Linked DNA regions of Homo sapiens: regions 1, 2, 3 and 5 are each linked to region 4. The links come from fine-mapping of genetic effects on gene expression. A gene starts in region 4. Each other region holds a variant in brackets. All regions are shown on one strand. Distances are between the middles of the regions. Region 1 overlaps LOC124900674 (a long non-coding RNA gene). Region 2 overlaps TAPT1 (transmembrane anterior posterior transformation 1). Region 3 holds the start of LOC105374505 (a long non-coding RNA gene). Region 4 holds the start of TAPT1 (transmembrane anterior posterior transformation 1). Region 5 overlaps TAPT1 (transmembrane anterior posterior transformation 1).

The links. PIP is the estimated chance that this variant, and not a neighbour inherited with it, causes the effect.
Region 1: its variant is fine-mapped to the expression of TAPT1 in whole blood (TOPMed, PIP 0.99).
Region 2: its variant is fine-mapped to the expression of TAPT1 in whole blood (INTERVAL, PIP above 0.99).
Region 3: its variant is fine-mapped to the expression of TAPT1 in whole blood (TOPMed, PIP 0.98).
Region 5: its variant is fine-mapped to the expression of TAPT1 in whole blood (INTERVAL, PIP above 0.99).

Annotation. Positions count from the first base shown.
Region 1 is chr4:16,313,654-16,318,759 of GRCh38, reverse strand. The region is part of intron 2 of LOC124900674 (a long non-coding RNA gene); the gene reads right to left. Among named protein-coding and RNA genes, the nearest start is that of TAPT1-AS1, 90 kb to the right of the region's middle. The variant T/C (reference allele first, on the strand shown) is at 2,952.
Region 2 is chr4:16,196,509-16,201,614 of GRCh38, reverse strand. The region is part of intron 3 of TAPT1 (transmembrane anterior posterior transformation 1); the gene reads left to right. Among named protein-coding and RNA genes, the nearest start is that of TAPT1, 27 kb to the left of the region's middle. The variant T/GT (reference allele first, on the strand shown) is at 3,044.
Region 3 is chr4:16,355,902-16,361,007 of GRCh38, reverse strand. It overlaps LOC124900674 (a long non-coding RNA gene), which reads right to left. Exons shown (of 5, transcript XR_007058064.1): 5 at 2,720-5,106. It overlaps LOC105374505 (a long non-coding RNA gene), which reads right to left and starts at 143. Exons shown (of 4, transcript XR_007058069.1): 1 at 12-143. It also overlaps the pseudogene ZEB2P1. RefSeq lists an enhancer at 1-597. The variant A/G (reference allele first, on the strand shown) is at 2,060.
Region 4 is chr4:16,223,831-16,228,936 of GRCh38, reverse strand. TAPT1 (transmembrane anterior posterior transformation 1) reads left to right here and starts at 2,466. Exons shown (of 14, transcript NM_153365.3): 1 at 2,466-2,678. The coding sequence starts at 2,480. It overlaps TAPT1-AS1 (TAPT1 antisense RNA 1), which reads right to left and starts at 2,274. Exons shown (of 3, transcript NR_027697.1): 1 at 1,760-2,274. RefSeq lists an enhancer at 1,354-1,413 and silencers at 1,924-2,123, 2,184-2,253, 2,264-2,363, 2,374-2,423, 2,534-2,913.
Region 5 is chr4:16,184,197-16,189,302 of GRCh38, reverse strand. It overlaps TAPT1 (transmembrane anterior posterior transformation 1), which reads left to right. Exons shown (of 14, transcript NM_153365.3): 5 at 948-1,083; 6 at 2,425-2,522; 7 at 2,699-2,768. Among named protein-coding and RNA genes, the nearest start is that of TAPT1, 40 kb to the left of the region's middle. The variant G/A (reference allele first, on the strand shown) is at 2,000.

The sequences.
Region 1 (5,106 bases), 90 kb before region 4:
CTGCCACTAAAAGATTCCATTTTAGGAGCCAATTTTTAAGAGGTGAATGAACCCCTTACATAGTTGATTTGAAAAATGAGAAGTAGACACCGAAAACTTTGTGATATCATCTAAGAATGGTAGATGGTTTAGATAAATCCAACACTTGCAGCAACCCCTGGATAAGGATCATACTTAATCATTTTAAAACCTGTTCATGAAGAGCATTCCTGGATGCTTTTAAGTTGAAGGAGGTTATGACAAGAAATATTCCACAGCATGTTGCATGGTAAATAAGTATGCAAGAAATGTTTGCTGATTGACTGATCTGCTTTGCTATGTATATGTAGTTTCTATGAACACAAAACTGTCTCAAAGAAAGCGATAAAAACCGCTGCTCCCAGTCATCAAGTTATTAGCATGAGATGTGTACATGGGTAATCTCAGCTTCTTTTTCCCCCTCAAACACTGATGTGCTGGACACTGAATCACTTAAAATGATAATTTGGCATAAGGAACCATATCAAACTCTTCCAATGACTTCTCCATCAGAAACAGTCACTGGGTCCCCCTGCCGAGTACTCACTGCAGCTAGAAGGCAGCGGGATATGCTGCCCACACTTCACACCCTGGTTTCTGAATTCCAGGGCTTCCCACATGGCCTACAGCAGGAGGTCTCATGCCAGATTGGCAAGAAACAAAAGCCATCATCCTCTCCCTACCTCTCACATCTCTAAAGTTGGTACAATTAAGAAATTAAACTCTATCATAGCAAAGTATGAAATTAATTTTGAAAAAAGTACAAGTTATTCATTTATCTTAACATGTATGATGAACCAGGCACTCTTCAAGCTTATGAGCTCCCAGTGAGCAAGAAACACAAGATCCCAGCCCTCTTGTGGGACATGAAAAATAAATACATGACAACACAGAAACAGGGCATTTGCAGGTCAGGATGACTTAGACAGAGTGGTTCAGGAAGGCCTGTTAAGGAGGTAACTTTTGATACATGAACTTTAAAGAATAAAAATGAAGCATATATTGGAAAAACTAGGAAAATAATAATCTAGGAGCAAAGACCAATAAGGGCAAATCCTATAATAAAATGGATTCAAAGAATCAAAGAATGGAAGAGGGAGTTTCAAATTTATATTAAAAAAATATTATCATCATCGAGCCATCTTAACTCTTCTGTTATACAGATATAAAAACAGCGATTCAGAAAAGGTAGTAATTTTATCAAGGCTACCTTGCTTGGGCAACATGATTAAAGGTGACCTTCCTGAACACCAGTTAGCCAGCTATTCTGACACCATCTTTTATATTCCCCTACAAGACAAATGTTAAACTTCCATAGGTATTAGAAATCTATGACATGACTTTAGCAAGGAAGTAGAAAACAATGATTTAGCTCTGGGGTTGGAGGGAGTAGAGAAAAGCACTCAAACGCATATTAAACCCTTCCCTTCAGAGAAGTACTCAGTCAGTCAAGATTCTCAAGCACCATAAAAACAATTCTAAATGATACTTCATTTTTAAAAAGTGTCTTTCAAAAATCCCAAAAGACTGATGGAAAAAAGATTAACAGCTATCATTTGATGGCTGTGAAATGGTTGCTTCAATCTTGGGAAAAACAGGTTGGATTTCGAGGGAGATGTTATGAATAACATGGTGCTTGGAAAAAAATATATACATATAAATGTATAAAGTATATTCTGTATTCATAGCATATTCATATATAAATTTATAAAAGTATATATGAATATAATATTTATATATTTTGATATATTCATATATTAACACATGTATAAATATATATATGTATGAATGAATATATGTTTATATATAAATGAAAACTATGTGAAAGACTGCTATTATATACATCAAATTCTGCATGGGCCTGCTGGTGCAGTCCAGTAACAGCAAACACCTGCTCTTAACTGGTAGCTGACCGTGGGCCAACTGAGAAGACAGTGGCAGGAACTTGCTGTTGCCTGTGGGTTGGTTTTCCATTCACACATACTCAAGACTGAACTTGTTCATAGGTCAGTGCCCTTCACCTGTGCATTCTCTTCTTTGCTATACTCTCTGATCTTCCTCTTTCTCCTCTGCCCCCCGCAGATTTATTCCCCAGGGCCCCAACTTCATACTGCCTGAGTCCAGTATGGTCAAGGCAAAGATCCACCCCTCCAGAGAAAGCAATAATGACTCCTACTAGAATCTTCCAGGGCCTTTGGAGAAGAGCAACTTCAAGACAAATTTTAAGAGTGCTAATACTGTGTCCATTTTAGTAAATACCTTGGATGCATTGTTACTCTAAAAACCATTCTCTGTTCCGTGGAGGATGAGACCTGGAAAGAAGAAAGGGATGATGATGAGGAACTGAGAACCCTAGCCTGCCTCCTATGCTTGTCTGACCCTCTGAGGCGGCCATGGGAAGCTTTTCCCTAAAGCCTTTGGCACTTCAGTTCTGTCAATTGCTGCCCCTTTGGTGTCTTTTCAGAATTTGTGTCACCACACTCTGCTGGTGTGTCTGCCAGAAGCCTGACCATGCTTAGGATTCGGCCTAAGGATTCAGTGAATCTAACAGCTCACACCTGGATGGAGAAGGGAGGAGAAGATTGGGACATTAGTACCAGAATCCAAGAGGGTTAGTCTTACGCAAGTCTCAGAAATTGGCACTCCCTCGATATGAAGCCAACCTCTTTCTCCCAGGCCCAATCAACAGAAAAAGGATGCAAGTGGCAGAAAAGTAAATTATTGAGACTCTGTCTTTTAAACCACATCATCAATTTGAAAATAAAGCTTTTTATTTTTAGGATGCCAGCAGAATTGTTATGGCTCTGCCCCTGCGGTCTCAATAGTGGCCTTGGGCTCTAAAACCTTGACCTTGGAAAGAAAACATTTACATTGTAAATGCACTGGCAGTATGAGCACTGTTCTATGGTGAAGTACCCAACAGAGGCTAAAAA[T/C]TCAGAAGCGGCTTTTCCCTTTCTTCTGAAAGGCCTAATCCGCGGGGCTTTCACAGTGACAAAATCAAACTCTTAGCAGTAATTGTGCATTGGTTCTAGCCGTGAACTTGCATAAAATCTGAAATTTCACGCCACCTATCCTGTTGCAGGGAGTTTACCACTGATCATCAGGAAATGGAGCTTCTGGAGAGGCTTGAAGGAAATTAGACTGTGCAGGCCCTTGGGCAAGCATACTTGTGAACAAAATGCCTTTACAGTCATCCCTTCTTCCAAAACACAGGCAGCTTCACGCTTTGTTGAGCTGGTACTTGAGTCCTGCAGAGGCACACAGGTTCTGATGCGATGGCTTCGAGAAAACAGACCGTGTCTACTTTAGATATCTAAAGTCAGCCTACTACACCCAGACATTCTCTTATCCATCTCCAGTTAGGCTGGAAAAAGGAAGACTCAGAGTGGCTTGATGGCTAATTCCATGTGCTCTGATGGAGTGTCAGGAAGAAGGACAAGGTCCATTATGACCAGTGGGCAAAATGATAGCCAGTGGGTGGAAGCAATGGGAGGAAGCTTCTAGCCCATCCAGCAGGGGTTCTTTCTCCTCATTAGGATGGTCTGAAGCTGGAATGAGCCAGCTCTCAAGCTCACAATTGGCTTATCACTGAAGATGTCCAGAGGGGGGCCTCCACTGACAACCCTTGACACTAATTCTTTGCATGGTCTTGGCCCAGCATCACAGAGTGACGCAGACTGGCCTCACAGGAGCAGCTCTGGAAAATGGAGAGACATCAAGGGGTCAAGATGAGATCATTCACCTTTCTGGGGTCTCTGACTCCTTAGGAAGTTCTCCTTAAGGGTCAGGACTGCTCCAAGTGTTTTATAGTTATTAACTCATTAAAGCTGCACACCAATCCTAAGATCAAAGGTGGGTGCTCTCATCTTTTCCTACTTTACAGATGAGGAAACCAGGGCTCAGGGGTTACCTAACCCCTCCCAGATCGCAGAGCAAGCAAGTGGCAGAGGAGAAGTCCCTGGCTAAACACCACAGTCCACTCTCATAGCCTCTATACTGCTCTGTCTCAGAATGCTCTCTGCAGGCCCCCTGATGTCCTGTAGTGTGACCATCACTATCTGCTTTGTCTTCCTTCCTTACCAGTAGCTGTTCCGCTGATGGACTGGGTCTCTTCTGACATCGATTTTGCAAAGGCAATATCCCCTACACAGACTGTGAAAAACCCCAAGGTTATCCTCTTTGGTTAGTGATAGACCTTGAATTCATTTTATTTTTCAGACACAGTTCTAGATACACAGCCAGCATCTGCCACCAATGGCACTCAAAGCTGATGGAATGAATGATTTCACATCAGCAGTCACACAAATTATCACCACTGAATTGCATGGATGTTATCAAATCAGAAAGAAATGAGGCCAAAGCAAATATCACACATATGTAGTGCTTTTGCTTCTTAAATTTAAGTTTTATAAGTAATTTTGGCTCTGTGTTAAAAACAAAAAAATAATAATATAATAGCTAACACTTATATCATGTTATGTGCCAGACCCTATCCTAAGCTCTTTTCTCTTATTAACTAATTTAGTCCTCACAAATACGCTGAGATGTTAGGCAGCATTACAATCCCCATTTTAAAGAGGAGGGAACCAAAATACAAAGAACTGAAGTTTAGGTTTCAGTACCTGAGCTAGTAACCAGACTAGTGTGCCAAGTGCCAGAGGAAGGTGGCCTAAACCAAAGTAATTTGGAAGAGGTTCAGAGAAAAGGATTAATTCAAGAGACATCACACTAAATAAGTAAATTGCAATAAAGCTGGAAATGGGAGGCAAAGAAAGAGACACCATCGAAGACAGCTGCCAAGCTTCCAACGAACATGTCTTCTTGTCAAAACTGCAAAGATTCCACCTCTATGTCTTTGTTCAGGCTCTTCCCTTTGTTTGCAACGCCTTTCCATGCCCTTCCATGATTGTTCTGCAAAGCCTCTTATTAACTGCTCCTCACCTCCTGCCTCTGCATCCCTATATCTCATTGTTAGTTGGCATACAGTTCCTGGCCCTCACCCATCTTCCTCCATGTTTTAAGCTCCTCAAAGGTAAAGACATAGCACAGTGATGAGTGGGGAGCCCCAAACTCTAGCTATTTAACATC
Region 2 (5,106 bases), 27 kb after region 4:
AGTTTGGCTTTTACGGTTTTCTTTCTTTGTACAATTATGCCGGTGTGTCTCCACTCTGTATATAGTCACTCTTCACAGCATTTTTATTGAGTTCTTAGCATAGATGTCGAGGTTACATTTCTGACATGCATCACTTTTCTACATACATTTCATGCTGGAAAAGTTCTAAAATGCTAAAATGGACAATAATTTGTGAGACTTCATTGAACTATGGTGACTGTTCCGTGGTGTATAAAATATATAATTAATAAAATAATTTAACCATAGCAGTTGAGTTAAAAATTAGTGGTCGATATACACATTTATATGGTTTGTTTTTTTAAAAGACTGAAGCCATGAAAGGTTCTTTTTTAAAGTAGTAAATGAGCGTATACTTGATATTTAGTAACACATACAGTCTTTTTAAAAATAAGACAATCAGTTTTGATAGAAATTCCTCCCAGTATAAATTGGAATAATTATTATGATGATCACATTATAAAAGGATTTAAAATGCTTGTTTTGCAAGATTACATGGAGTAAAACAATTATAAAAATTCAGCTCCTGTCATTGTTATATGCTATATTCTGTAACTTACTTGCCTTCCAGGATAACAGTGAATTAGTGTTACATATTTTATTAATCACAAGTTAATCAAATGGGAAGGTAGTTTTAGAAATTTAGTTATTTGCTTTAAGGCATTTCTAGTACATCCTTTTTTCTTTTGGGAGAAGTTTTAAGAAGGCCTTATTATTAACAAGCCTTTTTAAAGGCATTTGTAGCGTGGTGCATTAATACTAACAAAACCTAACCACAATAAACTATTTTCTTTTATCACTCCTGGGAGCTTCATGATATCATGGCATTTTAGTTCATTTTCAGAAGACCCAAATACAATCTAATAGAACATTACCAAATATACATCTTTATTTGGAACGGGATAAAGCGAATAGAAACATGGAAATTTAGATAAAGTCAGGTGAAACACATGACATAAAATTACTAATATTGCTGGATGTGGTGGCTCATGCCTGTAATCTCAGCACTTTGGGAGGCCAAGGTAGGAGGATCGCTAGAGGCCAGGAGTTCAAGACCAGCCTGGGCAACATAGTAAGAACTTGTCTCTACAAAAAATTTAAAAAATTAGCCAGACATGGTGGCACATGTCTGTGGTCCCAGCTACACCAGAGGCTGAGAGGTTGGAAAATCACTTGACCCTGAGAAGTCAAGGCTGCAGTGAGCCATGATTATGCCACTGCACTCCAGCCTGGGTGATGAGTGAGACCCTGTCTCAAGTAAAGAAAGAAAATAACTAATACTATGTAGGGCTTTTCACATCTACATTATGAGCTACATTACTTTTTAGTTATTCTTTGATCAACAGTGTGCGTCAAGTTCATGTTCTAGCCATCTTTATGTGGACGGCTTTTAAAGACATGTCATGTTCTTAGTGGCTGTTGGCACAATGTGGTAAAACATTAAAATGATAGATAAGCTAATGACTGTATTCCTTCTGGAGTGGTCCCTTCCTTGGGCATTGGTTAGCACACGTATGAGGTATACTAAGTAACAGTGGTGATTTGCCAGTGATCCCAAGGGTCTCTCTTCGGGGACAGTTGTTTGAAGTTCCACCTTGTTATATTGTACAGGCATCTAAAACTGTGTTGCACTCAAGTTCATTTCTGTGTAGCCCCTGTTACGTGGGGGTACAGGGCACATAAAATAGCATTAGAAGAGTCTTTTCTAGACCAGCACGGTGGTACACACCTGTCATCTTAGAACTTTGGGAGGCCAAGGTGGGAGGGTAGCTTGAGGCCAGGAGTTAAGACTAGCCTGGGCAACATAGCGAGACCCTGTCTCTACAAAAAATAAAAAATTAGCCAGTTGTGGTGGCACATACATGTAGTCCCAGCTACTTGGGAGGCTGAGGTAGGAGGATTCCTTGAGCCCAGGAATTCGAGGCTGCAGTAAGCTGTGATTGCACCACTGCATTCCATCCTGGTTGACAGAGCAAGACTGTCTCTTTAAAAAAAAAAAATTCTTAAAGTGTTTGTTCTAAAAACTAAAAGATGTTACAGGGAACTGGGAAATCTTAAATCCTCTGCCAGTATTTACTTTTACTAGTGGTTAATGATCCCTACCTCTAACCTTTTTTAGATATTTTAAGATTTTTTGTAGTGCATAAGATGATTGCTTTCTTACATTAGTTTGAAATACTTTGAATCTAAATTAATTTGAGTATCATTTGAAAATAAGATGTTTTCTTTTTTCAAAGTTTTATAGCTAAAATGACACTAGAGGGCAGCCTGTTACACATGACATTTAAGACTCCATTGAGGATTTCCCCTGCAAACACTTCTTACTATTTCTGCTTTGGATTAACTGAAAAATTAATTTCATGCTATCACTAATAAATACTTATATGTATAAAAACATGAAATGCAGTTAAAATTATATAACTGTTTCAGCAATTTTAAATGATAGGAGTTTAAATGAAACTTAAATTTTCATTTAAATTTTAAATGAAACGGAGTTCAGGCAATTATAAATGCTTTGAGGATAGGCCAGGTTACACAGAATATGAAAATCCTGCCTAATGTCTTAGTGCCTTAAGTATGGTTTATCAAAATTGAGTAATTTGTGCTTACAGTAATATAGGCTGCAATTTTTGTTTCTTTGAGCAATTTAGAAAATATCTCTTTGAGCATTATTTTTAAAGTCACGAAACTTGAAATATTTGATAAGGTAAAAGTTACATAAACAAAGCTATTGTTAATATTAAGTCTAAGACCTTTCAAATATTTTGGAATATAAAAATACTTTTTAGGTTTACCAAATGATTATTTAGAAATAGCCAGATTTTGCCTTCTGATAGCTTTTATTCCTGTGTTTTCTACTTCCATTAAAGATTATTCGATTTGTCTTGCCTGTAGTGATGTCATGTTCCATCCTTTTCAGCAAGCAAAAAGTGCTCTTTCCTTCAGTCTGACTTTATTTTTTTCAAAGAAATAAGAAGAAGTGAAATAGACTGGCAAAGAAGTTGATTGCAATTTTTTAAATAAT[T/GT]TTTTTTTTTCACTCTCCTGTATTTCAATCTTCTTTCTGTAAAAACTTACTGTCTTCCTAGTCTCTTTGTTCTTTGAAATTGTTTTCACAAAAGGGAGGAAACAGTCCATTTGTCAAATTAATCACAATGCTGACGTGAAAACAGTAACTCTTTGCAGACTCTAGAACTGTTTGGTTCAGTATCACATCAATAATGTAAATTATTGCCTTCTTTTTATATTTGAGATCAGTGTTCTCACCTCATCTGTTTGCAGATTTACATCTTGTACAGCATTTGTGAGAAGCTTTTTAAAGCACATAGACCCCCGTGTTCTCTGCTTCATAACTTAATATTTGAACCTATTTCTAGTTCTTCTGCAAACTTGCCATGGTTTTTGACTTAAGTAAAATAAAGACCCTGTCCCTTCACTAAGGCTGAGGACAAGGGTGGTTCTACAGTGCCTTAAGTAAACCCAGCCTTCATCATGATGGCTCATCCAGCAGGGTGTTTTGCTGGCTTTGACCCTGTTGTTTAAGTACTGTTCATTATGAGATGTTGGCAGGGTAATTATCTGCAGTCATATTTGTGTGTGGTGTTTGCCAAGGATGCACTCCCTCCCTAAAAGTTAATGTCTGTCCTCAGTGATCTCAAGAATACTTCACTGAAATAGTTTCTGATGAATTAACAACCTTGAAAAATCTTTGCCCACAAATATTTTGTTGTAGACTTAAAAAAAAAATTAGAAAATGCATCTAAATTCTTTAAAAGCAGATTCACTTATGTATATCTTCCCTCTTTCCCAGATAAGAGTAGTGTCATTTTAGAAATCATTTGAGAAACTTCTTGAACGAGGATAATCTTTTTAATGATTCATGACATATAAAACAGAACTAAGTTTTGATTTATTATATGAAGTGTCTATTCCTTGGAAGAATGATAGAATTTTTTGTTTTTCAGAAAAGCAGACTGCTCTATATTATGTTAGAGGTACGAAACATCCTTTTTCCAAATTTGCTTGTAGAATTGAATGAAAAATAGCTAATTATGTACATTTGATTTACCTGGCATTTTTGTCAGCCCTCTATTCTCCTGAAATTTGTGACTTCGTTTTGTGCTTTAGAATTCTCAGTCACGTAAGTTAAAAGTTAAAGAAGATTGTAGAGAAAAATGATATAGCCTGGTACCAAGAATTGAGTTATTGTTGAAAAAACTTTACTGAAACATTTTAGAAAGTGATACATGAGTTGAACAGGCTTAAGTAATAAATGCCGGAGTGTTTTTTGGTTTTTGTTTTTTACTATTAGAGCAACTAAAATATGTGTGAGCAAATGTTCTGTCCCCTGGCCCGGCTTTAGGCATAACTCTCACATGAGGCTTCACAGGCTTTTATTTTTCTTGGTTGAAGAGGCAATAGTATCATTTTCTTTTGAGAGTTTATCCCATGGGAGAGCTCTTGTCTCCCAGAATTATGAATTTCAGATGCTTGAGAGTTTCCTAACCTTTTGAGTTTCCTTCGTATGCCTTACCTCTTTCGAAATAGTTCTGCCCAAGATTAACCTCACCTATATGTTATAATAGATTTTTCTCTTTTTAGACAAAATTAAGCCTTGATTTTGGCCTAAGTGATTGATGCCACCACTGTAGCACAAGTAGGGAGAGCTCTTGGTAACTTTCTCTGGGGAAACAAATATGCCTTTTACTTCCTTTTACCAGGGCTGATCTATGTGGCTTATTTGTTGAGAGCAATATATTTGTTATTAGAAAGTCTTCGTAACACCAGGTTTTATTGTCCCGTTTCCTCACCATGGAGCTCTAAGTAGCGTAGCAACATTACAATCTTCTCTCTTTCTTTCTCTCTCGTAAATCAGACCGAAGGGAGGAGCACTTTCACTTCCTTTATAGAATGGAATGTGGTGGCACAGGGACTCCTTGTGGTGAGTAAACCCTGATTTTTCCTTCTATACTCTTGGCCAAATTGACATTCATTAAATGCAAAAGTAAACAGGATAGGCAGACATAGCCATTAGGGGGTAGAAACATACTGAAGAAAATGTGGATCCCTGTCCTTTTTAAAATAGCATCT
Region 3 (5,106 bases), 130 kb before region 4:
ACCGGGCTTACCTGCAGAGCATTATCCCTCCAGGGTACTCTGACTCGGAGGAGAGGAAGAGTACGCCGAGGGATGGCGAGAGCTAGAAACAGCGCGAGAAGGCAGGCGAGGATGGCTACGGGAAGCTGGGCAGACAAGATGGCGACGAGGAGTTCGAGGCGGAAGAGGAAGAAAGTGAAAATAAAAGTATGGATACGGATCCCGAAACGATACGAGATAAAGAAGAAACTGGAGATCACTCCATGGACGATAGTTCGGAGGATGGGAAAATGGAAACCAAATCAGACCACGAGGAAGACAATATGGAACGTGGCATGGACTAAACTACTGCATTTGAAGCTTCCTTTTTTTTTTTCCAGTAGTATTGTTACCTGCTTGAAAACATTGCTGTGTTAAGCGGTTCATGCACATGCCTGACGCTTCCAGAAAGCTGTGGAGAGGGACAGAAGGGGTGGTTCAGCCAAGACAGATGTAGACAGAGTTGGAGCTGGGTATTGTTAAAAACTGCATTATGCAAAAATTTTGTACAGTGTTAAGGCCTAAAAACTGTGTGGTTCAGAGACTAATTCCTGTGTTTAATAGCATTTATACTTTAAGCACAACTAGAAAATTGTAAAAATTGCACTCTACTTACGTATCACTACAAACTTTACAAAACTATGTCTAATTTACATCAATACATTTTTAAAAGGTGCCAGCACTACCATACATCATTATTATTATTGTTATTCCTTTTTAATTTAATCTGCTCGCACTACAATGCATCAGTATTACGATTCCTCTGTACTTTCCTTTTGCTATTCATCAATTTCCCTTTTTTTTTCCAGCTTAAGTAACCACACAATTTTAGGCCTCAATTTTTTTTTTTCTATGAAGAAACTTGAAGTGTTGCACGTGTGAATTTAAGATACCGAAGTCTTAAAGTGACCTGGATGTAAAAGAAAAAGTAAGATGAGAAATAAAGCCTTTGTAAGGTGGTTTTAAAAGCCTTTTATGCAAACCTTTTACTCTGTGTTTCTGCAAGTGCCATCTTTGTACAGTATTAAGAAGATAACATGGGTTACCTTTGCACCAGCTTCAGTGTTAAGCTCACCCTGTTCTCTGAAGCAACCATGTCAGTATTAGAAGAATAGGCAGCAGTTCCTTAGTTTACATATGTTCGTGCAATTATTTTATGTACTTTTTTGTTCATTAATTTTGTCAGTATTACACCAAACTGTTTTTGCAACAACAATTTTTTTTTTGCATTCATTTAATTTTAGGTCAAATAACATTTTATTTATGTTTTTTTATTTTTTATATTTCCTAATTTTATATTTACTAATTTTATTTATTTCATACTATAGTGTACGGTATTATAGTTCTTCAATATATAGATATATTTTAGTAAAAAAGGAACATGACATTGGTCATTTGGGCAAATTTTATGTAAAGAGAAGAGCATTTATTGTGTTTTGGAACATTAATTGTGAGATGGAATTTTTCGATTTTATTATTTTATTTTTGTTTTTTCCAATTACTGGAAATTCCAAATTTGGGAACTTTTGATACGATCTTGTGAAAACACTGTATTTTTTATTGAAAATTCCACTTTCTTCATCTTGTTTTTTAGCTAAAAAGAGGGACTGTTAAATACAATGTATGATACCATGCAAAAATCTTTCTGAATTGTCTTTGTAAAAGTATTATTGAATTTTTAATTTGTAATTTCTTTTGAAAATGACCATGCTCGAATAAAAATGTAGCCAAATTAAAAACAAAAAAAAAGATGGCTCAGAGGACATTTTATTAACAAAAATGATAGAGGGCTCTGGTGAGAGAGTCACAGGCAGTGCAAAAGTGAGCAGTAATTATCCTCTGTAGGTCAGGAGTGATGATAGGAGAAGTTGTTGTTACACAAGTGGGCTCCCTAACAGCAATGAGGATAAGACTCTGGAAAAGAAGAGGCCAGGAGGCAGCCCTTAACAGTCAGAAAAAGAATAAAGTAAAGCCAGTTACTGTAATGGACAGCAAGACTGGAATGGCAGCCAGAGGCATCTGTCCCATAGGGATCATGGCA[A/G]TGGCTCACAGAACATAGTATTCTTAGGTGCAAAATAGATGGGCAACCAGAAAGTGTACTGCTTAAAATACATGATCCAAAAAGTTCAGAGAATGACAGTCGGGTGTGGTGGCTCATGCCTGTAATCCTAACACTTTGGGAGGCTGAGACGGGCAGATCACATGAGTCCAGGAGTTCCAGACCAGCCTGGGCAACATGGTGAAAACCCTGTCTCTGTAAAAAATACAAAAATTAGTCAGGTGCAGTGGTATGTGCCTGTAGTCCCAGCTACCTAGGAGGCTGAAGCAGGAGGATCTTGAGCCCAGGAGTTTGAGGCTGAAGTGAGAGCCATGATCACCCTATTGTACTCCAGCCTGGGCGACAGAACAAGACACTGTCTCAAAAAACAAAAGGGTTCACAGAGAATGGATGATCAAGAGACTTAAGGTCTGCTGCCTCTGTAAAAAGACTTTTTTTTTGAGACAAGATTTTGCTCTGTTTCCCACCTGGAGTGCAGTGGCCTAATCACAGCTCACTGCAGCCTTGAACTCCTAGGCTCAAGGGATCCTCTTGTCTGAGCCTCCCAAGTAGCTGGGACTGCAGGCTAGCAACACAACACCTAATTTCTTTTTTTAATTTTTAGTAGAGACAAGGTCTTGCTATGTTGCCCAGGCTGGTCTCAAATGTTAGAAAGTCTTGATTGCCCAGTTTACAGCCCTGAGGAGTTCTCAGATCCAGAGCACGTCGACTAAAGAAAGATCATATTCCCACAGAAAACAAAAAAATCCTACAACACAACAGCCAGTGAGCACAGTAGTGCTTTCCCAGTTCTTCCCAACAAGCAAATAACAGCAACAACGAAAAGAAAAGAATTATGGCTATGTACTCAAATAATTGTACACTGCAGAAAGGGGAATACCCAAATCCTTCAAAGGCTATAGGACATAGAATTGAGTAGGCACTAGTACCCAGGAACCCAAAGTACCAATATTATCCCTGATAGTGCCTATGGGGGGTCAAATAATAAATGAAGTCCTGGCCAAGGTCCATCTCACAATGGATTCATTCTCATCCATTGCTATTTCTCTGATTCCTAAAGGCATAAACAACAATTTCATACTCAGGAGTTGACAGAACTCCCACACTGGCATGCAGAGTAAGAGCTATGGCAGTAGGAAAGGCCAAGGGGAAGTCCCTGAAACTGCTCCCTGCTCCAAGATAGTAAATCAAAACCAAGATCCCATCCTGGAGTATATGACAGATATTAATGCCACCTTCAAATACTCACGTAATGCAGGAGTAATAGACTCTGTCATATCCCATTTATTCAGTAGGGCAAAAACTGGATGCATTATGATAGATGTTAATGGACTATCACAAACTTAGCCAAGTGTAGTCTCATTTGTAGCTGCTGTGCCAGATATGGTGTCTTTACTAAAGGAGATTAACACAGCTTGAGATATATCATATGTGGCTATCGAACTAATGAATGTGTTCTTTTCCATATCTACATGAGAGGAAGATCAGAAGCAGTTTACATTCTCGAGGCACAAATAATGGTACAAATTCAGAGTTGCTGCAGAACTTTGTTAATTTTTCCATTCTCTGTCATGCTAAAATCCAAAAGGACTGTGAATGTCTGGACATCCTAAAAATGGTAGTGAGCATATAACTGTGGAATCCATCAGTCCTGCCATACACAAACCATCCAGAAGCTATTGGCCTGATAGAGTGATGAAACAACCTTTGGAATGTACAGCTGAGGGGTCAGATTGAAGATGACATCCTTCTGAAGATGGGGTGCTATAATTTATGATGGGGTATATACTGTATACCAACGGTCATTATATGGTGATGTGTACCCAATAGATAGAACATATGGTGAGAGAAATAGGGATGGGAGTAGCATGAGCTGCTTAGGAAATTTGTGTGTCCTTTGTCTGTACCTTTATACACTATAGGTACAGAAGTCCTAGTCTCCAGAGAAGGAGGTGTTTCCACCAAGGGATGCAGTTGAGAGTGCTACGTGGTCATTGGGCATCTTAATGCAAATAGACGAGCAGTCACAGAAAGCAGACATTATATAACAGTGGGGATAATAGACCACTGTCCTCATGAGGATATAGAACTGCTCCTTAATCATGGGGCCAAAAAATTGCTGGCATGAAGGTGATCTTTCAGAATATCTTGATAGTTCTACGTCCTATAAATGGGCAAATACAACAACCATCGTCCTGTGGAACTATATCCTATATCCTCTGGAGGAAAGACCTCAGCTAATGACTGACTGACATGGGTGTACAAAAGACTAAGCACCCCTTGACTCAAGGTAAGACTAACTCTGCTATGTTATTTGTGCTTCAGAGCTTCCCCATGGGAACAAACTAAGGCTAGCCTCCAGTTGAGGCCCCATTCTTACTTAGCTTTTATTCCCTCCCTATTCTGCTTCCTTCATTCCCCTCTTCTACGACCATTTCCTGGAAAAAATTACTTGAACAAAGATACCTGTTTCAGCAGCTCCTAAGGAATTTTACCTAAATGACAGAGAGTTTTAATGGTTTTGTTTACTGATATTTCAAAGGTTCTAGAAAGCATGGGACACAATGGGCCCCAGATAATATTGTTGAATAAAAGTTTAAACCATATCATACTGAATTGTCATGCTGGGTTTAGTTGCCATCATTTATTCATTTAGTAATTTCTTTTACTCACATAATTGGCTTTTATCTAGTGCTTCCTATGTTTTAGGCTTCATGCCAAGTGTTGGAGATACAAAAAACAACGTAAGTCTGTGCTCCAGTTCTGACGGCACTGTCAGCCTTGTCATGTAGACATATCGATAAACTGACTCACTTGAGTACGAGATAACGAATGCTAATGTTATGGATTTAACTGTATGCCCTCAAAATTCATAGGTTCTATATTTTGAGATAGGACCTTTAGGGAGGTAATTAATGTTAAATTAGGTTATTAGAGAAAGGCCTTAAATCAATAGAGTTGGTATACTTTTCAGAAGAGGAGGAGGCACCAGAGCTCGCTTGTGCTCTCTCTCTCTCGTTCTCTTTCTG
Region 4 (5,106 bases):
ATATGGGTTTGTTTGAAATTGTGTAGTTTCACATGTCAGATATAATAAAGCAGCTTCAGTGAAAAGATTCAACCGACGAGAAGCTACAAGTTCCTCAACTTGCCCACATTCGCATTCCCACATTTCCAATTTGTTCCCCCGCTTCTTTAGGCAGTACCTAGCCTCGGCACGGCTGCTTCCTCTTCTTTTTTTTTTTTTTTTTGGCACGGCTGCTTCCTCTTCTTCTTTTCTTTTTTTTTTTTTTTTTTTTTTTTTTTTTTTTTTTTTTTTTTTTGGGACGGAGTCTCACTCTGTCGCCCGGGCTGGAGTCCAGCGACGCGATCTCGGTTCGGTTCACTGCAACCTCCGCCTCCCGGATTCAAGCCATTCTCCTGCCTCAGCCTCCCGAGTAGCTGGGAATACAGGCGCCCGCCATTACGCCCGGCTAATATTTGTATCTTTAGTAGACACGGGGTTTCACTATGTTGGCCAGGCTGGTCTGGAACTCCTGACCTCGTGATTCGCCCCCTTCGGCCTCCCAAACTGCTGGGATTACAGGCGTGAGCCACCGTGCCGGGCCCTCTCTCTTCTATTTAAAAGGATAGGCACAGCCTTTGGAACTGAATGTCTTTCCTCAGGCCTCATAATAGAAAATGAGGAAAGTCCATTCTGACAACTGGCTGCCTTAGGCAACAGAATTTGGGATTCCTACCCTTCCAGCTCCTGTTGAGTCAAAGGCAAAGGCAATAACCCAATAAATGTGGTGAGACAGTAAATGGAAACTGACATAAAAATAGCAATAAAAGCCTACTTCCTTCTTGACAATCAATACATAATGGAATGGGTATGATTTTACACCATAAAACATCAGAGAATAATAGAATATGGGCTGAAGAAAGCTCAGAAGCCACAACATTTTCCCCACCTTTTGATTTTCAAAACGATTCTTAAGATTTGTCGGGAGTATTTGTTTTCAATTGTTTCAGTGAGGCTCAGTTTTGACCACATGCAACCAAAATAGAGAATTTCATGGAGGATGGTCACAGGATTGGCTTAGAAAAATGTAATCCTGTGAGCTGTCCCCTTTCATAAATAATAAGGTTCCGACGGCTGCACCGAATGTTCCTCCTTTCAACGAGGTTGGGCCGAGGTTGGGCTCCCAGCTGCTGGGACATTTTTAGTCCATCTTGGACTCTCACCTCTGCCTCCTGCTCAGCTGTCAGAATGCCAGGCGGCTCTGCAGCCCAAAGCCCACTCCGTTTTAAACTTGCTCGTTTGCAATCACGTAACCCGCTACTGACGACAGAACCCTCAAGGCCCATTTATATGCGGTTCTCAAGTTTAGGTCTAGGGAAGTTTCCAGGAAGCTTAGTGTTCGGGGAGGAATTCGTTTTGCTTTTGCTAATCAAAGAGACACAAAAGCACAGCTGAGTCCCGAAGCTGGCACACGGGAAATCGAGGTACCACTGTCCCCTCACCGGAGCGCGCAACAATCACTTGGGGAGCGGGGAAAAGGTTTCCACCTTCCCCGAGCCTGGGGCACCTTCGCTCCCACCGCCCCAGCTGGTGGTGGTCTCGACACCACGCTCGTTGCGGGGTCACACGCCAGAGCTGGAAAGGGGAGGTCCAGCCCCAAGTAAAGCGACAAAGTAAGGACACAGTGGTGGCCAAGGGCTGTCTCCTAACCCCAGTCCCGAAAGACAGTGTGGAAAGTCCGCCGGCGCGCCAGCCCTTGAAACTCTGCCGGTCCGGCCGCGGCCCCTCCCCTGCGCGTCCCCACCTGTTGTGAAGCTGCCCAAGCTCCTTCTTGCCCAAATGCTTTGGAAACTGCCAAAGGACACTCAGAGGCCAGGGAATGTAACAGGCAAGCATAAATATGCAGAAGAGATGGAACCAAAATAGCGGGCAGGCAGGGCCGGCGCTCGTGGGGGTCGGTGATCTGGAGCCGGGCCCCCGCCGCCGCGGCCGCGCCAGCAGTGCCAAGACCTGGCGGGCGGCGCCGGCGCACTCCGGGCACCGAGTCTGCAAAAGAGGCCCTGAGCGGACCGCCGGACACCTCGCAGACTGCGGGCAGCGGTGGTGGCGGCCGCCTCTCCGGGGCTCCACGGCCGACCCGCCGCCCGCCGCCGCCATCCCCGGCCCGCTCCTGCCGGGTCCCCGACTCGAGCCCCGGAGGCGCCCGCTCTGCGGGACCGCGCAGCCCGGCTGCATGGAGCCCGGCGCGGTGCCCCGGCCGGCCGAGCCAGCCACGGCGCGAGAAACCGTCGCCCGCCACGGCGAGGGCAGGAAGAAGATGGCGGCTACCGTGGCGGCGGCGGCGGCGGCAGCGGCCTCACACGCGTCGCTGACGCCAATGGCTCGCGCCGGTCGGCGGGCCGCGGATGGCGGCGGCGGCGGCGGCGGCTCGGGCTCCGGCGAGGGGCGGGGCGAGGCGGGGAGGGGGCCGGCCGGAGGCAGAGGCTGGAGGGAGGCGGCGGGGACAGTTTGTTGTGCTCGGAACATGGCGGGCGTCGGCGACGCGGCCGCTCCGGGAGAAGGCGGCGGTGGCGGCGTGGACGGCCCGCAGCGGGACGGCCGCGGCGAGGCGGAGCAGCCGGGCGGCAGCGGCGGACAGGGGCCCCCGCCGGCGCCTCAGCTCACAGAGACGCTGGGCTTCTACGAGAGCGACCGGCGGCGGGAGAGGCGCCGGGGCCGCACAGGTGAGGCGGGCGGCGCTAGGCCGTGGCGGGCTCCGAGGGGCGGACTGGGGACCGAGGGCGGCGGGGGCGCCTTGGAACCCCGGCCCCCGAGCCGCGCGGCTGCCGTTGCCTCCCGGGGCTCCCCAGGCTGTGGGCGCGCGGAGCCGCCGAGGCTGCCGAGGCTCCGCGGCCGTTGACAGTTCCTCGGGCGGGTTGCGCGCGCAGCCCCGAGGCCCCCGCGGCCGCGCCAGGCCAGGTGTGCCCTAGAAGGGGTCTGCGGCCGGGAAAGTTCTGTCCGGGTCCTTGCATCGCCCTCGGAAGGTCTTAGGTTAGCGGGCATCTCCCACGTCTCGGAGCCCAAACGTGAGAAGCACACGGCTGATTTCTTAATTATATTCATGCCAAGGTGACTTTTTTTGTTCTGTATTTTAAGCAAACTTGAGCCATAGAAACCTGTTAACTTGCCCTGCAAGTAGATTTTTCACAGACAGCTGACGGTGTGGTAGTGACCATGAAGTTCAGTAGTTTTGCCCAGTACAGAAATATTTAACACTCCATAAAATGTTGCATCTGAACTTTTCCTGAACTGAAACTTATGCCAAAAAAATTACTAGATGAGAAAATGTGTACTTATGAATCCTACATTCAATGACCAGTTTTAAACGTATTGTTACAATGTTACAGTTTCTATAAGCTGTAGGTTTTTATTCTCATTTTAAAAGAATTTTTAAAACTTGCATTTGTATTCATATTGCAGTTACAGATTAGTTTTAAATGAAAAAAGGTTTTGAGATGGATGTCTTCTTGAATATAGAGTGAACCCAACGTTTTAATTCTCAAGCTGTAAACAGCAACTGAACCATAACTCCATTAAATTTCTTCCAACTAAAAAATTACTTCTGTTGTCCAAAAGGGGCTGTGTTAGCCGTTATTTCCTGAAGTTCATGCAAATAACTAAGTTGTGAGGCTGATTACATCATTGATTGTACTTGAGTACTGAAATTTTAAAACTACTTAAGGGGCATAAAGTTGATCAGATGCGATTCTAATTGATTTGCTGATTCCCAGAACTGGACGTAGGTTCTATTTGAAGCAGTCTATATTTTTGGAAAATTACAGACGGTCTTGTTTGGTCTTTTTCAATTAACCACTTAAAAATTCTCAACCATACTTTATTTGGTTTAGTTCTCAGTTAAACATTTGCTTTCAAGAGTATTTACTTTCTTCATTGGCAGGATCTCAGTAAGACAAAATAGCAAATCTCTCAACTGTCTGTTTACTTACTTAGACTTGAATATTAAAAGCACTCTGTTGTAAATAGAGATAGATGTAGCCAGGCTTCACTATACTTTCTTTAAAACATTTCTCAGTTGCAGGAAAGCCACCATTTTAAAAGCCTTTTTTTGTTGTTTGCGTGGAGAGGAAATGAAGTTGTTTGAAGCCTATTGATGAGCACAGATCTTGAGCTTGCAGTATCACTTAACACTTCTTCCCTGGCTTTTTCTGGGACTGGATACCTGGACTTCCATGGACTTCATTATACCACGTATCCATTCTTCACCAACATGGTTCACCATGTTTAAGGCTGGATTTTTTTTAACCCATAGTTGCAGGAAGTCATTATCAGGGAGATGCCTCCAGGTTTAGCTGTTGGGGTAGTCCTTGTTCTTTCCCCAGTTCCATTGATTTTGTGTGAGGAGATGTCAGTGGCCACTCCTGCTTTACCAAGTCACACTAGCCTTGGCGATCAGGATTTAGGTGAGAATTCCAAATTCCAGGAGTATTTCAGCTGGAGCCACTGGCCAGTGTTCTCTCTGAGCCTCCACATAAGCCCCTCCTTCTTTTCCCCTGGTGTCCCTGCTCTGCTAGTCACATAGCTCCTGCCACTGCTAGCACCCAGTCTGTAGCTCCGATAACCATATTTGTTAGAGGTTTCCCCACTAGAAACAATTATTTTAGTCCTTCTTCAATGCCCAGGCTGCTAAGTCTAGCGCTGCCCTCTTCCCCTGCTCTGTAATCCTTCCTTCCCCTCCTTTTAAGAATTTTTAAAAACGATTCCCTAGGAGCTGGCCTGGGTCAGAGGGCCTTTGAGTGGCAGCACCTGGAGTCATTTGGATAGCATTTCTCCCTGAATCAAACTAGTCCTCCACGGCTAGATGCTCGGACTTAAGGTATTACTTGTTGATTTTTTTATATTCTTGTGTGCCTCTGAGAGTCTAGCACCACTGCCCTTGAGATCTAGATCCCCCTGCAAGTTAAGGCAACCTTTGGCTTTTCTTTTTGAAAGTCATAATCTTAGTGTCTTGGTGGCTGAACCATCAGTCAGTTCCAAAGTTCCCTTTATCATTTCTCACAAGGAATTTAGGGCTCCTACAGGTAAGACATTTGTTGATCAGTCCCAACAGCCTAGAATTCCCTAAATGAATGTACATATTAGGTACTTATCCAA
Region 5 (5,106 bases), 40 kb after region 4:
TGAAAAAGAACAGACTAAGGCAGTAGAGACCATAGGAGCCACAAGAGATTGGATGGTCTGGAAAAGGCCTCTGTTAGGATGTGGCATTCAGACTGAATCCTGAATATCATGCCCTCCTTTTCTCTCTTTTATGTGTCAATTTTTACCTGTTATACTGTATTCAAGGAGATTGATACCTGAAAATGTGGTTAGGAAGTAAATCTGCATATTTTATTCCATATAATAAACCTCAAAAAAATAGTTACCATTATTTACAAATATTAGATATGAGTAGGTCAAATGATATATTTGTCCTAAATTTGAATCCTGAGTTTGAATTTAAAGTGCTAAAACCAGAGGAACCATGATTTTGATGTGCCCACCCCCTTTTTTTCTTTTTTTGGTTGAGTCAGAGTCGCGCTGTCACCCAGGCTGGAGTGTAGTGGCGCAATCTCGGCTCACTGCAAGCTCCACCTCTCGGGTTCACGTCATTCTCCTGCCTCAGCCTCCCGAGTAGCTGGGACTACAGGCGCCTGCCACCACGCCCGGCTAATTTTTTGTATTTTTAGTAGAGACGGCGTTTCACTGTGTTAGCCAGGATGGTCTCAATCTCCTGACCTCGTGATCCGCCCACCTCGGCCTCCCAAAGTGCTGGGATTACAGGCATGAGCCACCGTGCCCGGCCAGATGTGCCCACCCCTTTTATTTTTGCCACTATTTAAGACTTTCTTTGTTACAAACATAGCTAATTAGTCTAACTGAAATTCTATACATATTTTAGCCGTTACTATTTGTTAAAGAATAAAGAAATGTGAGTGAATAAGTAAACAAAGATCCTCACTCCTCTTTAGCTTGCCTTCTACTAGGATTTAAAACACAGATCTCCAGGATTTGAGCTATATCTCAATTTTAGTTATATATTTAAATGGAATATTAAGAAACATCTTACAAATAATTTTTTTTTTTAGGTAGCTGATCGTCTGTTTTCATCTTTTGGACAAGACATATTAGATGCTCTCTATTGGACAGCAACAGAGCCTAAAGAAAGAAAAAGAGCCCACATTGGGGTGATTCCTCACTTTTTCATGGCTGTTCTCTATGTCTGTATCCTTATAGACCTACTGGAAATTTCCGACAGTTAATGCATAGTCTACCTTATTTTATTTGGTTAGCCATTTTATAGATTTAAAGATATATAGATAATGTATGTATCCTGAAGATTAATGTGAAATATTTGTGTTCTGTTGAGAAATTGATTGTCATAATAACTAACTAATTTAAGAGCCTCATGTAGGCATTACTCTTTGAGCTGCTGGAAAACAGTTCTGTTTGCAGTGTAACTGATTATAAGGAAGACTTTTATAATAAAAAGGCAGTGTATCTTTATACATACCTGATATAGATCTATATAATTTTTCGTACTTATGTTAGAATTTTTCTTGAAGTTATCTTTAAATCCAGGAATTCTTTTTTATGGGCTTAAAATGCATGGAATTTATCTAAAAGTGTAATGTGAAATTGGTTGGGAGGAGTTTTGGTGGTTTTATGTGTTTGTGTATTCTTCCCTGGCTTTAAGCTTTTCTATTGGAGAGTAAGTGCTTTACTGTATAAGCAGTGTACATGTTTGTGTGTACCCCTACATATTTATACACACATTCCTGCTCTTAAGTTCCATGTGAAGTCAGGACTCATTCACAAGAATGAGTCACTTTTTTTTTTTTCTATCTCTGTAACAGTGACACTTGAAAGAAATTGGGTTAATGCTTGGAAAGTTAAAGAACCAAGTTGGAAGATACCTGTGAGGGTAAAATCTTGTTCCAGTTTTAATGGAGTAAAGCAGTTACCACTCTTAGATATAAATTAACTATTCTGTATGTAATACAAATATAATTCTGCAGTTTATGGATATCTTCAAAATGACATATGAAGAAGAATCTTAATTATCAGATATTTCCTACTGCCTTACATTCCACATTTCCTGAAGACTCAGGGAAGAAAATCACTTCCAGAATTATATTTT[G/A]TGCTTTCTTTTTTAGAATGCAAATTATTTTAATTCAGAATGTGTATTTCTTAGTCTCTTCTTTCAGTATTTACCATAATTTATTCCATTTACTTAACAAACTTTTTTGAGGGCCTATTTCCTGAGCACTGTGCCAAGTGCCAGAGATACAGAAAGAACAAAACAACCCTGTTGCAAAGGATTCATGGTCTAAATAAATGAATGCATAGAGGTACATTTCCACTTTTGTTCGTTTCATGTGGATTGCACATATCCTGTCAAACTTATATCAACTATAGCTAATAGGGAAATTATGAAGATAATACAATACTTATTAAGACAATTTAGAAAAGAAAGTCATCTTTATTATTCACTTTCAAAATTTTATAGTATTATCAGTAATAATATGAAAGCAAATTTAAGTTTTTTCCTTGACCTTCTATTAGTTTTGCATGCAATTCTTATAATGGTTCAAGCAACAACTCTCAATGTAGCTTTTAACTCACACAACAAGTCTTTGCTTACTATCATGATGTCTAATAATGTAAGTATGAGATTTATCTTACATTTTTGAAGTTATACAGGCATTTCAGCTGCAATACTCTGGGTGGGATAAAATTCTTTGTTCTATATGTTGTTCTCCCGGAAGTTTTATAAGTAGCAAGTCCAGTTTTTAAACTGTTATAATCATAAAGATGGTATTTCTGTTTACTATTTCAGTTTGTTGAAATTAAAGGAAGTGTTTTCAAGAAGTTTGAAAAGAACAATCTCTTTCAAATGTCAAATAGCGGTATGTACAATTAGATTCTACTTGAAGTTCTGTGCAGTATTATTTTGCAGTTCATTCTGAAATCCTAATGGCACATTTTCTCTGGGCCACTCTTCAGCTTAAACTGTACCTTCTCTTATGCTATCAACATCTTTACTAGGTTTTCTTATTTTTGGTTCCTGTAATCACAAGATGTTTGAGATAAAAAAATTAGAAACATTTGTGTAGCACCATACGCTACTTTGAGAAGCTTCTTAATAGTCTAGAAATTTCTCTGAAGTGGGTGGTATTTTTCCATTTTATAGATGTGAAAACTGAAACACAGAAAATAATTTGACTTCTCCACAGTCACATAGCTTCTAGGAGAACTATGTCTATAAATCTCAGATTGTCTCTAAGTCCTTAGCTTTTTTAGTTATTATTTAGTTATTATTTACTGCCTTCGTTCTAATCCTAAAAAGTGTGAAGGCACAAAATTTTTGTGCCTGGAGTCATTGTCTTACATAGTTTTTGAAAGCCAGAGCCACATTGCGTGGTGGATCATGGAGCCCCCAAGAACAGTCCCAGGGGCTCTGCCAGGGAGTATGCTCAGAGTCAAAAGTGTTTTCACAAGAATATGAAGACATTATTCATCTCTTCTGCCATGGTGACATTTGCACAAGTCATGAAGAAATGGTGGTGTTTTAGCATGAATCCAGACAGATGTACAATAGAGAGGACCCCTAAAGGAACCTGGCTTGATGATGTCCTTGAGGAAGGAGGGGTGTGTTATGGGGAGGCCTGCAGTCCTGTCGTAGATAAGAGCACACATGGCTCATCCAAAGCAGCGCTTGTCAGACTTTTTGGTCCTGAGAACCCTTTTACACACTTTAAAAAGTATGATGATCAGCCAGGCGCAGTGGCTAACGCCTGTAATCCCAGCACGTTGGGAGGCCGAGGCTGGTGGATCACCTGAGGTCAGGAGTTCAAGACCAGCCCGGCCAACATGGTAAAACCCCGTCTCTACTAAAAATACCAAAATTAGCTGGGTGTGGTGGCGGGTACCTGTAATCCTAGCTACTGGGGAGACTGAGGCAGGAGAATTGCTTGAACCTGGGAGGCGGAGGTTGCAGTGAGCCAAGATTGTACTAGAGCACTCCAGCCTGGGTGACTAGAGTGAAACGCTGTCTCAAAAAAAAAAAAAAATTACGATGATTCCAAAGGACTTTTATTTATATGGATTATGTCTCTCCCTATTCACCATATTCGAAATGAAAACTGAGAAATTTTAATAAAAATATTACATGCTTACAAAAATAACATTTCAATAAAAAAGATATTTTATAAAACAAAATTTAGTGAGAAGAGTTTCTCAACAAGTAATGCTGGAACAGTTGGATAAAGGTTAAAAAAAAAAGAACTTTGGCCCCTTCCCTGCCCAAGAAAATTAATTCATAGTGGTTCATAACCCTAAACATAAATGCTAAAGTTATAAAACTTCTAGAACAAAATATAGGAGAAAACATTCACAACCTTGGTCTAGGCAAACATTTTTGGAGACCACACAAAAAGTACTAAATGTAAAACAAAAGAGAGAAACTGGACTTCTTCAAAATTAAAATATGTGATCATAAAACTTAAAAAGTGAAAAGGCCAGCCACAGTACTAAGAGAAAAGATTTGAGATGCATATATCTGACGATAGATTTTGTTTGTTTGTTTTCTGAATATATAACAAACTATACCAATCAATAATGAAAGGACAATCTAGTTTTAAAATGGGGAAAAGGCTTGAACAGACATTTCACAAAAGAAAATCTATAAATGTCCAATAAGGTCATGAAAAGCTGCTCGGCATTATTAGGGAAAATGTCACTGGAGAAAGACAAAGCCATAATGAGATAGCACTGCACACCCTCCAGAGTGACTGCTCTTGTAGCCTGACAGTGCCACAAGTTAGGATATGGATTAACTGGCACTCAGGCATCGATGGCGTGAGTGTAAAGTATTACAACTGCTGTTTTTGGCCATTTCTTTTACAGTTAAATGTTCACCTGCCCTGTAATTCAGGAAATATATTTCCTCAGTAGGACTTGTTGCAAGAATTATTATGGCAGCTTTGTTCATACTAGCCAAAAACTGGAAACAACCCAAATAGCTATCAGTAGGAAAATAAACAAACTGTATATCCATACCATAGAATACTACTTAGCAATTAAAGATAAAAGAATGAACTCCTAATATTGTCAGCTATGTAGGTCTCAGAAGCATTATGTTGAGCAGAAAAGCCAGACACAAAAGTGTACATGATGTATTATTTCATTTATATGAAGTTTATGATCAGACAAAATTCGTTTATGATGATAGGAATAAGAGGTTGT